3 linked regions of the Homo sapiens genome follow. The protein of the gene in region 3 binds, or shares a complex with, the protein of the main gene of each other region. Each region holds a gene or a part of one and is shown on either strand. Other genes may lie near its edges.

Region 1 (3,752 bases), on a different chromosome or scaffold from region 3:
TTTTTTTTTTTTGAAAGAGAGTATTACTGTTGCTCAGGCTGGAGTGCAGTGGCACGATCTCAGCTCACTGCAACCTCCACCTTTCTGGTTCAAGCCATTCTGGTGCCTCAGCCTCCCAAGTAGGATTATAGGCATACACCACCACGCCCAGCTAATTTTTGTATTTTTAGTAGAGACGAGGTTTCACCACATTGGCCAGGCTGGCCTCAAGCTTTGGCCTCAAGTGATCCACCCACCTTGGCCTCCCAAAGTGCTGGAATTACAGACGTGAGCCACTGTGCCTGGACTAAATTTTTTAGGTATTTGAATTTTTAAAAATTAGAATAGAGTTTTAGAACAGGTAAGATTAACCTATTAACTGACCGTTGATTCAATCTTTTTGTGTTGTGTTGTGTTTTATATTTGTAAATGGAAAAACGAAATGACAAATAATTATGAAAGAGGCATCCATTTGAATTAAAGATCCTGAAGAAGAGAGAACTATTATCCGGAGTTAATCCTTTAATAGTTTTCAGGACATAGTGATAATATAGAGCTTCATTTTGGAATATAAGCATGAATTATCTCTCCAGGGAATTTTTATGTGGCTCATATATGTATGATTTATTTGAATATTCACTGTAGTTACATACTCTTATGGCATTTTGAACTTACATGATTAGAAGAAGAAAGTTAATTAAAAAAGAGAAAAGCATTTTTTTTCTTTTAATTTAGAAAGGTGTTACAGAAGATGGCTGGAACTGCATTTCTTGCCCTAGTGACTTAACTGCCGAAGGAAAATGTCACTGTCCCATTGGCCATATTTTAGGTAAGAATTAGATTCCTTATAAAGAAGTAGTGATAAATCTTCATTCTTGTTTTTGTTTTTATTTGAAAAGGGCACTAATTTAAATAGTTAAGTGATTACTTAATATTTTTGCAGTGGCTCAAGCAATTCTCCTGCCTCAGCTTCCTGAGTAGCTGGGACTGCACACATAACACCACTGCAGCTGGCTAATTTTTAAATTTTTTGTAGAGACTGGGTCTCGTTATGTTGCTCAGCCTGGTCTTGAACTCCTGGCCTCGAGAGATCTTCCTGCCTCAGCCTCCTAAAGTGCTGGGATTATAGGCATCAGTCACTGTGTCCAGCCCTTAATAGTGTTTATAAAAATTATTTTTGTACAAATTAATGATACTTAAAACATCAGCAGGCATTGAGAAGAAAATACAAAGTTTTGTCTGAGTTTTTTAAAACTCTTAATATTGTAGGATTAGATGGTTATTTCCTTAACATAACATGACAAAATATGTCTCAACTCAAAAGCCAACTTGATACTTAATAGGGAAAAAGCGTAAGCATTCCTGTTAATGTCAGGACCTGGAAAAGGATGCAAACTATGCACTTAAGTAAGAGAAAAAAAATATTTATCATTGGAAAAGAAAAGGTAGGCCGTTGTTAATCCTAGCACTTTGGAAGGCTAAGGCAGGTGTATTGCTTGAGCTCAAGAGTTTGAGACCAGTCTGGGCAACATGGTGAAACCGCATCTCTACAAATAAAAAAAAAAATTATTTGGTTACGGTGGCATGCACCTGTAGTCCCAGCTACTCGAGAGGCAAAGGTGGGAAGATCGCTTGAGCCTGGAAGGTCAAGGCTACAGTGAGCTGAGATGGCGCCACTGCACTCCAGCCTGAGCGACAGGGTAAGACCCTGTCTCATGAAAAAAAAAAAAAAAAAAAGTAAAATATCATTGTTTACAGATGATTTGATTGTATGTTTAAAACACCCAACAGAATGACTAAAAATTATTATAAACAGTGATGGAAGAAAATACCTCATATACAGTAGCAACAAAAAAGAAAAAATAAGTAGGCATATCCTTTTTTTTAATTTTAATTTTTATTTTTGTTTTTTTTTTTTTGAGACAGAGTTTTCACTGTTGTTGCCCAGGCTAGAGTGCAATGGTGTGATCTTGGCTCACTGCAACCTCCCTCTCAGGTTCAAGCGATTCTCCTGCCTCAGCCTCCCGAGTAGTTGGGATTATAGGCATGTGCCACCACACCTGGCTAATTTTATATTTTTAGTGGCTAACAGGGTTTCTCCATGTTGGTCAGGCTGGTCTTGAACTTCCGACCTCAGGTGATCTGCCTGCCTCAGCCTCCCAAAGTGCTGGGATACAGGCTTGAGCCACCGCACCTGACCTTGGCATGTACTTTAGAAGGAATGTACAACATAATTGAAGAAATTTGTGAGTATTACTGAGGGATATGAAGGCAGGCTTTTAAGTGAAAATGCATTCTTTATTTTTGGATGGGAAGATTAAATATTAGAAAGATGCAACTCTTCTACCAGTCTGTATATTTTAAAGGACCCTAATAAATTCTATCAGGATATTATTTGTTTGTTTTGGGGTAATATACAAATAGAGTCTGAAGTTTAACAGGAAAGTTATATGAAAAGCTAAGAAAATTCTGGGAAGGGAAAGAAGGAACTACCCCATCAGATAATATGCATGTTATATAGCTACTATAATCACATATATGACAGGCTTATGGATACACAGACTGATTGATGGAACTTAAAACAGGCAATCAGAATAGATTCAATTCATATAGGAATTTGGTATGTGAAAAAAGTGGCATTTCATATAAGTGGGGATAAAACTGATTAATGATGCTGGGAAAACTGAGAAAACACCCAGGTTGGGTTTCTACCTTATTTCTGAGAAAATTAAACTCCAAATGAGTCAAATACTAAATATGAATATATGAAAGTTCTTAAAGAAAATGCAGGAAAAATTTGTATAGTTTTGGTTTAACAGGCCTAAGTATGACCAAAAATACTCAGTCACTTTGGAGGCCTAGGTGGGACGATTACTTGAGCCATGGAGTTCCTGACCAGCCTGGGCAATATAGAGAGACTCTGTGTCTACAAAAAAAAAAGAAAAAAAGAAAAACCACAGAAGAAAAAATTGGTAAATTTATAAAATGCCATAAAAATTATAATACCAAAAACCAAACTACAAACTAAAGAAAAATATTAATGCATACAATAGACAGAGGTCGAAGTTCTTCAATAAATGTAAAGCTCCTACAGATAAATAAAAGTAAGATGAATAACCCAATTTTTAAAATAGCCAAGAGTCATAAATAAAGTTCACATAGAAAAAAATATTTTAACGTGAGAAAAAAATGTTCAACTTTACTCAGAGTAAGAAAATGTACGTTAAAGCTAAAATGAGATTTTATTTTTAACCTACCAGATTTTATTATAAAATTTTTTCGACCGGGCACAGTGGCTCACGCTTGTAATCCAGCACTTTGGGAGGCCGAGGCAGGTGGATCACCTGAGTTCAGGAGTTCAAGACCAGCCTGACGAATGTAGTCGCTATTAAAAACTCAAAATTAGCCTGGCATGGTGGCACATGCCTGTAATCCCAGTTTCTTGGAGGCTGAGGCAGGAGAATTGCTTGAACCCAAGGAGGTGGAGGTTACAGTGAGCCAAGATCACGCCATTGCACTCCAGCCTGGGCAACAAGAGTGAAACTCCATCTCAAAATAAAAAAGAAACTTTTTCAACTTTGACAATGTATTTATAAGGATACAGGGAAATAGTTATTCGTGTATTAATGGGAAAAATTTTAAGTTGGTGCAACCTCTGTGGAAAGCAAATTTATGGTGTTTATCAAAATTAAAAATACAGATTATCTTTGCCTGGAAAGCTCTCATCTAGAAATTTCTCATTTGGATACACTTAACTGTATGCCTGAAGAAGT
Region 2 (3,752 bases), on a different chromosome or scaffold from region 3:
TGTAAAATGGATTACGAAGCTTAACTGCCTTGGGGGAAATAGTGCAGTCAGTATTCGGCACCATCTCCAAAGTGCTGGGTGGGATGGATGAAGTCACCACACATTTGCCGCCATCTACCAGGAGAGCCATGCTGTTCATCAACATGTTAAGGGCTCTGAAAAGATGACCAGCAAGGAACCTTTCACACTTATTTAATCCAGTGTTAATATGGCCACAATATCTTTTCCTGGTGGTACATCTCACAGAACTAATGTCCTACAGAACACACTGTGGGAAACGGTGGTTTGAACTGGGCTGATCTCCTGGTGGAGTATAAGCAAAATCATCAAAGAAAAACCCAAATCCTCCATCCAAAGTCAAAAAAGTGGTTTCACCATCATTCTCAGCAAACTATCACAAGGACAGAAAACCAAACACCGCATGTTCTCACTCACAGGTGGGAATTGAACAATGAGAACACGTGGACACAGGGCGGGGAACATCACACACCAGGGCCTGTCGGGGGTGGGAGGGTTGGGGGAGGGATAGCATTAGGAGAAATACCTAATGTAGATGATGGGTTGATGCATGCAGTAAACCAACATGGCACATGTATACCTATGTATCAAACCTGCATGTTGTGCACATGTACCCTAGAACTTAAAGTATAATTTTAAAAAATTAAAATTAAAATTTTTTAAAAAGTGGTTTCAGGGACTCAGTAGCAACAAAATGAAGCAGTTCCTCAGAGACTTGAAGAAGTCATAAAATAACTAATGAAATTTCCACCACTATCAGCTGAGAACTTACAGGCCCCATGTCAGCACACCACACAGATCATTTAACACAGAGAGGCATGGCTGCTCAGTGTTCAGTGGGTTGGGCTCATATTCAGCCCTTCCACTCACCAGCTGTGTGTTCTTGGGAACTTACTTAACTTCTATGTGCCTCTGTCATCTCATGTATACGATGTGGATAATAATAGCATCTGCCTCACAGGATTGTGAGTTTACATGTGCGACATTTTTAGAAGAGGAACTGGCACATAGCAAGTCCAATATAAGTATTTGCTGTTATTATTGCTCTCTTACTTAATTTCCAGAAATAACCAAGGGACTACAAATTATTTTAAAGGGAAAAAGCTGACCAGAAAGCAGATGAAGAAGCATATGAAGCAGAAATTCAAGCTGAAATAAGTGAACTGTTAGAAGAGCACACGGAGGAGTACGCACAGAAGATGGAAGAATACAGAACGTCGTTACAACAGTGGAAGGCCTGGAGGAAAGTGCAAGTGTGTAAACAAACACTCAGCCTGGAATAGGGCTGGCCAGGAAGTGTCTGGGAGGGCAGCCTCCAGTACAGGAGTGGGGAAACCAGACTGGCAGACTAGGGTATCCTGTGGCTCCCTCTGTCTCTTCCCCGTCCCCTGGCTAAGGGATAAAAGGATGAATGAATTGACTGGCTAATGCATTTGCTTAAAAAGCCACCCAGCTGACTGATACCAGAGCCAGCTGTGTCCACAGAGAATGCTATGGTAGCACTCTGTGCCTATTTAAGTAATAATGTAGTAATCACTAATGCATGTGTCCAGCACTGTGCTGAGTATCTTACATGCATTATTCCATTAAATGTAGGGATTGATGCTTCTGAGTTTCCTTCAGAAAATTATATAACTTTATGCACATGACCCTACAAAACTGAGTCCAAGGGCAACAAATAATAGATCAGGTGGGCCTGCAATGCTCACTGTGCTTACATGCCTTATTTTAATATTTCAAGATGTGTACTTCGCCTTGAAAACCAAAATTAATGATCACATGAATACCTACCATTTTTTAAGCTCTTTCCAGGGACTAGGCTGTATGACAAATGCTTTTTAGGCATTTCAACAGTCTCATTTCAACAGCCCTGGGAGAAATTTCCTGGGCTCCATTCTGTAGATGAAAAAACTGAGGCACAGAGAGGTCAGGTGGCTTAGTGACCTGCCTGATTACACACTTCTGGTTGAAATGGGGCTGGGGTTTGTATCCAGGTCCATCTGGCTATGAAGACTGTGCTCTTAAATGAAATTCCAAAATTCCTGTTTGATATCATGTTGCCTCTAACTCAACAGAGGGCCAAGAAGAAGAAAAGGAAACAAGCAGCAGAAGAACATCCCGGTGATGAGATTGCAGAGCCGTATCCCGAGGAGGACCTTGTGAAGCCCAGCCCTCCAGAGCCCACTGATCGGGCAGTGATAGAGCAGGAGGTGAGGGAGAGAGCAGCCCAGAGCAGGAGGAGGCCTTGGGAGCCCACGCTGGTCCCGGAGCTAAGCCTGGCAGGAAGCGTAACACCCAATGACCAGTGCCCCAGGTGAGTGGATGCTCCGACCGTAAATGAGGCTGACATCTGATACACATGTTCACGTGGGCACATGCACACACACATGCACGACATGGGGAGTGTACACTTACTGACCTACACGAGCATCAGGAGTATCATTAACTCTAAATGAATATTAGGTTGAACCACATGAAATTGCTGACATTTGCCCACTTTAGGTGATTTCATATGATTCACCTACCTCATGCATCTGCACTGGCCACTCAGGAGCACACTGGAAAGCTCCCTGTAGGAGAAGCATCCCAGTTGCAAATCTCTGCCTGCTCTTCACAGTGGCTGTCTGTGTGGCTTTTGATTTGAGTCCCTTATCTGTAACCTCAATGAGTCCTTCAGTCCACTGGTAGCATGTCCCACCTTTCTGGCACAGGCACGGATGCCTTTCCTTGCCCCTTCCTTGATTTCAGCTGCTCCAGGGATCAGCTTTTCTCCTTGAAGACCCCCCAGAAAGTTGTGGGTGGTATTTAAGTCAGGCCATCTGAAGCACACCCTCCAGATATGATAAAAATACATGTCTAGTCATTCTCACTTGATGCCTAAGAGAAACATCATTTGATTTATATACATTTGTACATATAATAATTCATAAACATACATTTGTAAGTTCATCTTTTTAAAAATTATAACATAATAAAAATATTTTTATGTTTCCTATTTATTCTTTCCTTCACTGAATAGCCATGGTTCTCAAAGTATAGCCCCAGAATCAGCAGCATCAGCATCACTGAGGACTTGTTAGAAACATAAACTCAGGCCAGGCATGGTGGCTCATGCCTGTAACCTCAGCACTTTGGGAGGCTGAGGCAGGAGGATCGCTTGAGGCCAGGAGTTGGAGACCAGCCTGGGGAACAAAATGAGACCTCACCTCTATTGAATAAATAAATAAATACCCCAAACATTTTTAATACCTCACATTGAAATAAATATGTTTAAGAAAGATTAATAAAAACTAGCCAGATAATTAAAGTCAACCAACTAAACAGAAATTTAAAAAATAATTTTAAAAAAGAAAGAAATGCAAGCTCACAAGTTCTACCTGAGACTTACTGAACCTGAAACCCTGAGGTGGGGCCTAGAAAACTGTTCTCACAAGGTCTCCAAGTGATTCTGATGCATGTTATGGTATATCATCATTAATTAAAGGGAGTCCATTAAAATCATCGATACCACAAAATCCCAGGCTTAGTTCTCCAGTAAATAGAAGATCTATCATGAATACAGGGACTGTTGTACACTGGAATCTTCAATATCCCAACGTGAAAAATGAGAATTCAAATAAAGTCAGTCAGCCTCCGAGTTCATTAAAACGTGGGAGTTAATTAGGATGTCATTATAAGACTTCTCACAGTCTTGGTTTCAAACTTCTGCTAATGTTCTAATGATTGATTTATTC
Region 3 (3,752 bases):
CATGTGGTCTCTGTTGCAACTACTTAACATTGCCATAATAGCATGAAAGCTGCAATATATAATAACATGTAAGTAAGTGACCATGATGACGTTCTCCAAAGAACTTTTATTTACAAAAACAAGCAGCTGGCCCACTTTCTTTGTTTTTCTTTTGAGACATAGTTTCACTCTTGTTGCCCAGGCTGGAGTGCAATGGCTTGGTCTCAGCTCACTGCAACCTCCGCCTCCCAGGTTCAAGCGATTCTTATGCCTCAGCCCCCCAAGTAGCTGGGATTAGAGGCATGTGCCATCATGCCCGGCTAATTTTGTATTTTTAGTAGAGATGGGGTTTCACCATGTTGGTCAGGCTGGTCTTGAATTCCTGACCTCAAGTGATCCACCCGCCTCAGCCTCCCAAAGTGCTGGGATTACAGGTGTGAGCCACCGCGCCAGGTGCAGCTGGCCCACTTTCTTTCCATATCAGGCTCAGAGCAGGAACTTTTCTAATGTCTCTTGTCTTGCAGGCAGCGAAGATGGGGAAGCAGGATCTGGATTCCTTTCCACCTTAACCTCTGTGCTCTGCGCTTTCCTACTTACCCTAAAGGGCTTCCTTGCCCTCCAGCTTGCAGTTAAGTTGTGTCAGCGGGAGACATAAGCAGAGATCAGAGATGGGAGAAGGGAAATGGAGGTCCCTGCTATATTTATCCACTAGCCTCCTAGAGTGTGAGGGTTCCTAGTGGGAGGCCTTCTATGCACATATTACTCTCCAGCTTCAGGGAATTGTTTCAGGCCCTTCCCTTTTAAGCCTAGAAGTAACAATTACCGCCCCACCACATCCCAATTAGCCAGGGGTACAGCACTTTGCTTAAAGCTTAGTCACTCTTGGCCGGGGGCATTAATCACACCTGTAATCCCAGCACTTTGGGAGGCGGGGGGGGGGGGGGGGGGGGGGGGGGGGGGCGGGTCACCTGAGGTCAGGAGTTCCAGACCAGCCTGGCCAACATGGTGAAACCCCGTCTCTACTAAAAATGCAAAAATATTTAGCCGGGTGTGGTGGGGGGCACCTGTAATCCCCGCTACTTGGGAGGCTGAGACTGGAGAATCGCTTGAACCCAGGAGGCGGAGGTTGCAGTGACCAGAGATAGCGCCATTGCACTCCAGCCTGGGTTACAAGAGCAAAACTCCGTCTCAAAAATAAAATGAAATAAATAAAATAAAGCTTAGTCACCTTCCTCAGGCTACCTGGTTGGAGCGTGCCATCTGTTTCCTGCTTTACCCTGATTGACAACGGGCTAACAGCCAAGTCAAGTCAACCTGAGTCCTCTCAAAACCCTTCTTTTTGCACTCCCCTGCCTGCAGCAACACAGTTTTCTGTTTTTTTTTTTTTTTGAGACAGAGTCTCACTGTCGCCCAGGCTGGAGTGCGGTGGCGCGATCTCAGCTCACTGCAACCTCCGCCTCCCGGGTTCGAGCGATTCTCCTACCTCAGCCTCCCAAGTAGCTGTAACTACTGGCGCGCGCCAGTACGCCCGGCTAATTTTTGTATTTTTAGTAGAGACGGGGTTTCGCCATGTTGGCCAGGCTGATTTCGAACTCCTGACCTCAGGTGATCCATCACCTCGGCCTCCCAAAGTGCTGGGATTACAGGCGTGAGCCACTAAGCCCGGCCAGCAACACGCTTTTACCGCTGCAAATCCGGATCAGGCAGGCTTTGAAGCCCAGCTCACAGGCCGTCTCTTGGAAACTAACTTAGATTTCCACCTGGGAGCACTTTGTCCTCTCAGCTCCCACTGCACCACTTTATGGATCGCGTGGTGACTCGTTTCATTTTATTTATGTGTGTTCCTGGAAAGGACGCTCTATTTCCTTCGTGTCTCTACCTGGTAGGTAAATCGGCCGCAGAAAAGACCAATGCTAACTCCACCCTGCATTTGCAGAGATCCGTCGCTCACACCTTTTCTTGTCTTCCGTTGAAAAAAGAGAATCGTGGGAGTAGGACCTATTTGCCAATCTCCTGGTAACACTATCACAACTGGCCACTTCCGCCCAACGCCCGGTAGTCTGAGAGCCTCCAAGGTCCTCCCCCGCACCCCTGAGGTCCTGCAGACGACGGCGTCGTGGGTGGTCACCGTTATCCCTTAGGTCTGGAGAGGGGACATCCGAGCGAGGGCCACTTGCGGCCAGGCCCGAGCTCGTCCAGCTCCGGGTGACCACAGAGTGCCGCGGGCGGGCAGAGGGGCCGGAAACCCAGGCCGCTTCGTCCCTGTTTCCGGCAGCGCCGCGCTGCTCCGGGAGCCGCTGTGGCAGCGTATGCTGCCACGGGGACTGAAGATGGCGCCGCGAGGTGAGATTCCGGAGGTGTGTGAGTCGCTGGTCCCTTTCCCTTCGGTCGCTCCCTCCCACCTCTGTCCCAGAGCTTGACCTAAACCCTCCATTCTCTAGCGTTAGGGACGTCGCGCCTCCCTGGTCCAAAGCCGGCTTCCGCGGTCCCGCCCACCCTGGGTGCCTGAAGGTCTCAAGGTGCACAGCTCAAATAAACGCAGATCCTTGGCTGGGCCACTTCTAGGCTGGCTCAGGTGCGAATCTGTTGGTCTCTGCGCCCCAACTTCCCCTCCCAAATAGTGACAGAGTGAGATCTTTGAGATGTCTGTCAGCTGCGAGTTACCTCTTGACTTTTATTCCTGAAGCCGAAGAGTCGAGTTTCACGGTGATTCCTAGGAAAGGAGGGAAGCCCCCTCCACTCCCACCCCCGTACCCTCGCCCCCTCATTATCAGCAACCAGAAGTGCCCCTGAGTGGCCGGTCCCATTAGTTGCAGCGTCTAGTTTCCCCAAAGTTAGACACCAACCCATACGAGCAGAGAGGGAGCTGCCTTCCGGCCCATCCCACTTCTCTGTGCTCCTTTTTCAGGTAAACGGTTGTCCTCCACCCCGCTGGAAATCCTGTTCTTTCTGAACGGGTGGTATAATGCTACCTATTTCCTGCTGGAACTTTTCATATTTCTGTATAAAGGTAAGGAAGGCTTGGGGCTTGACGACAGCATCCCTTCCCCACTTCAGCTCAGAGCCAATTCCTACCAAGAACCTTCTTATTTTCCGTTCTTTTCTGCCCCCTGCAGTTCTTTGTCGCTGCAAGGCAGGCCTCCTCATCAGATGGCTTCTTTGAGTATGATTCCATAGGCAGCCCCTCAGCAAGAATTTCTTGAGTTTGAGAAATGTGGGCTTCTCCATTCTGACTCTGCCCACATCACTGCTCTTTGCTGAGCTCCACTGTAAGCCCACTGGTGACCCTTAGAAACTATTCAGTGGCCTGTGTACCCATGTACATCCAATCATTTTGGAGAGTGGAGTCCCCAGAGACTTTTGGAGTTAGGAGTAAAACACCATAATAATGAGCCTGAGTCGCATTGTGAGTTTATGTATCCTGCTGCTGTAATAATGCCCACATCTCACTAACTAGTTCATGGAAAGCTGAGACTGATGTCCTCTTTTTTCCCAAGTGTGTGGCAGTTCTTGTGGGTGCTGTTATATGCTGTTTGCAAACTCTGGCTTTTGTATTGGCAGGTGTCCTGCTACCATATCCAACAGCTAACCTAGTACTGGATGTGGTGATGCTCCTCCTTTATCTTGGAATTGAAGTAATTCGCCTGTTTTTTGGTAAGTGTTGTCCAGAGAATATTTCCACTCCTTATGAGACAAGCTGGTATCTGTAACTTGATTAACAAGAAAAGTACATAACCTAGGTTGACTATCATAGACTGGATCTGTATATCCTA

Evidence for each region.
Region 1: TMEM216 (region 3) and TMEM67 share a complex: the UniProt entries of both Homo sapiens proteins name them as parts of the tectonic-like complex.
Region 2: TMEM216 (region 3) and CC2D2A share a complex: the UniProt entries of both Homo sapiens proteins name them as parts of the tectonic-like complex.

Annotation. Positions count from the first base shown.
Region 1 is NC_000008.11:93,757,769-93,761,520, forward strand, and holds part of TMEM67 (meckelin isoform 1 precursor), read left to right. Parts: intron 1-714; coding exon 715-808; intron 809-2,091; coding exon of another isoform or gene 2,092-2,225; intron 2,226-3,752. UniProt on the Homo sapiens protein: Required for ciliary structure and function. Part of the tectonic-like complex which is required for tissue-specific ciliogenesis and may regulate ciliary membrane composition.
Region 2 is NC_000004.12:15,535,806-15,539,557, forward strand, and holds part of CC2D2A (coiled-coil and C2 domain-containing protein 2A), read left to right. Parts: intron 1-1,114; coding exon 1,115-1,271; intron 1,272-2,093; coding exon 2,094-2,332; intron 2,333-3,752. UniProt on the Homo sapiens protein: Component of the tectonic-like complex, a complex localized at the transition zone of primary cilia and acting as a barrier that prevents diffusion of transmembrane proteins between the cilia and plasma membranes.
Region 3 is NC_000011.10:61,390,344-61,394,095, forward strand, and holds the start of TMEM216 (transmembrane protein 216), read left to right. Parts: upstream 1-2,243; 5' UTR 2,244-2,288; coding exon 2,289-2,322; exon of another isoform or gene 2,323-2,336; intron 2,337-2,887; coding exon 2,888-2,989; intron 2,990-3,540; coding exon 3,541-3,633; intron 3,634-3,752. UniProt on the Homo sapiens protein: Part of the tectonic-like complex which is required for tissue-specific ciliogenesis and may regulate ciliary membrane composition.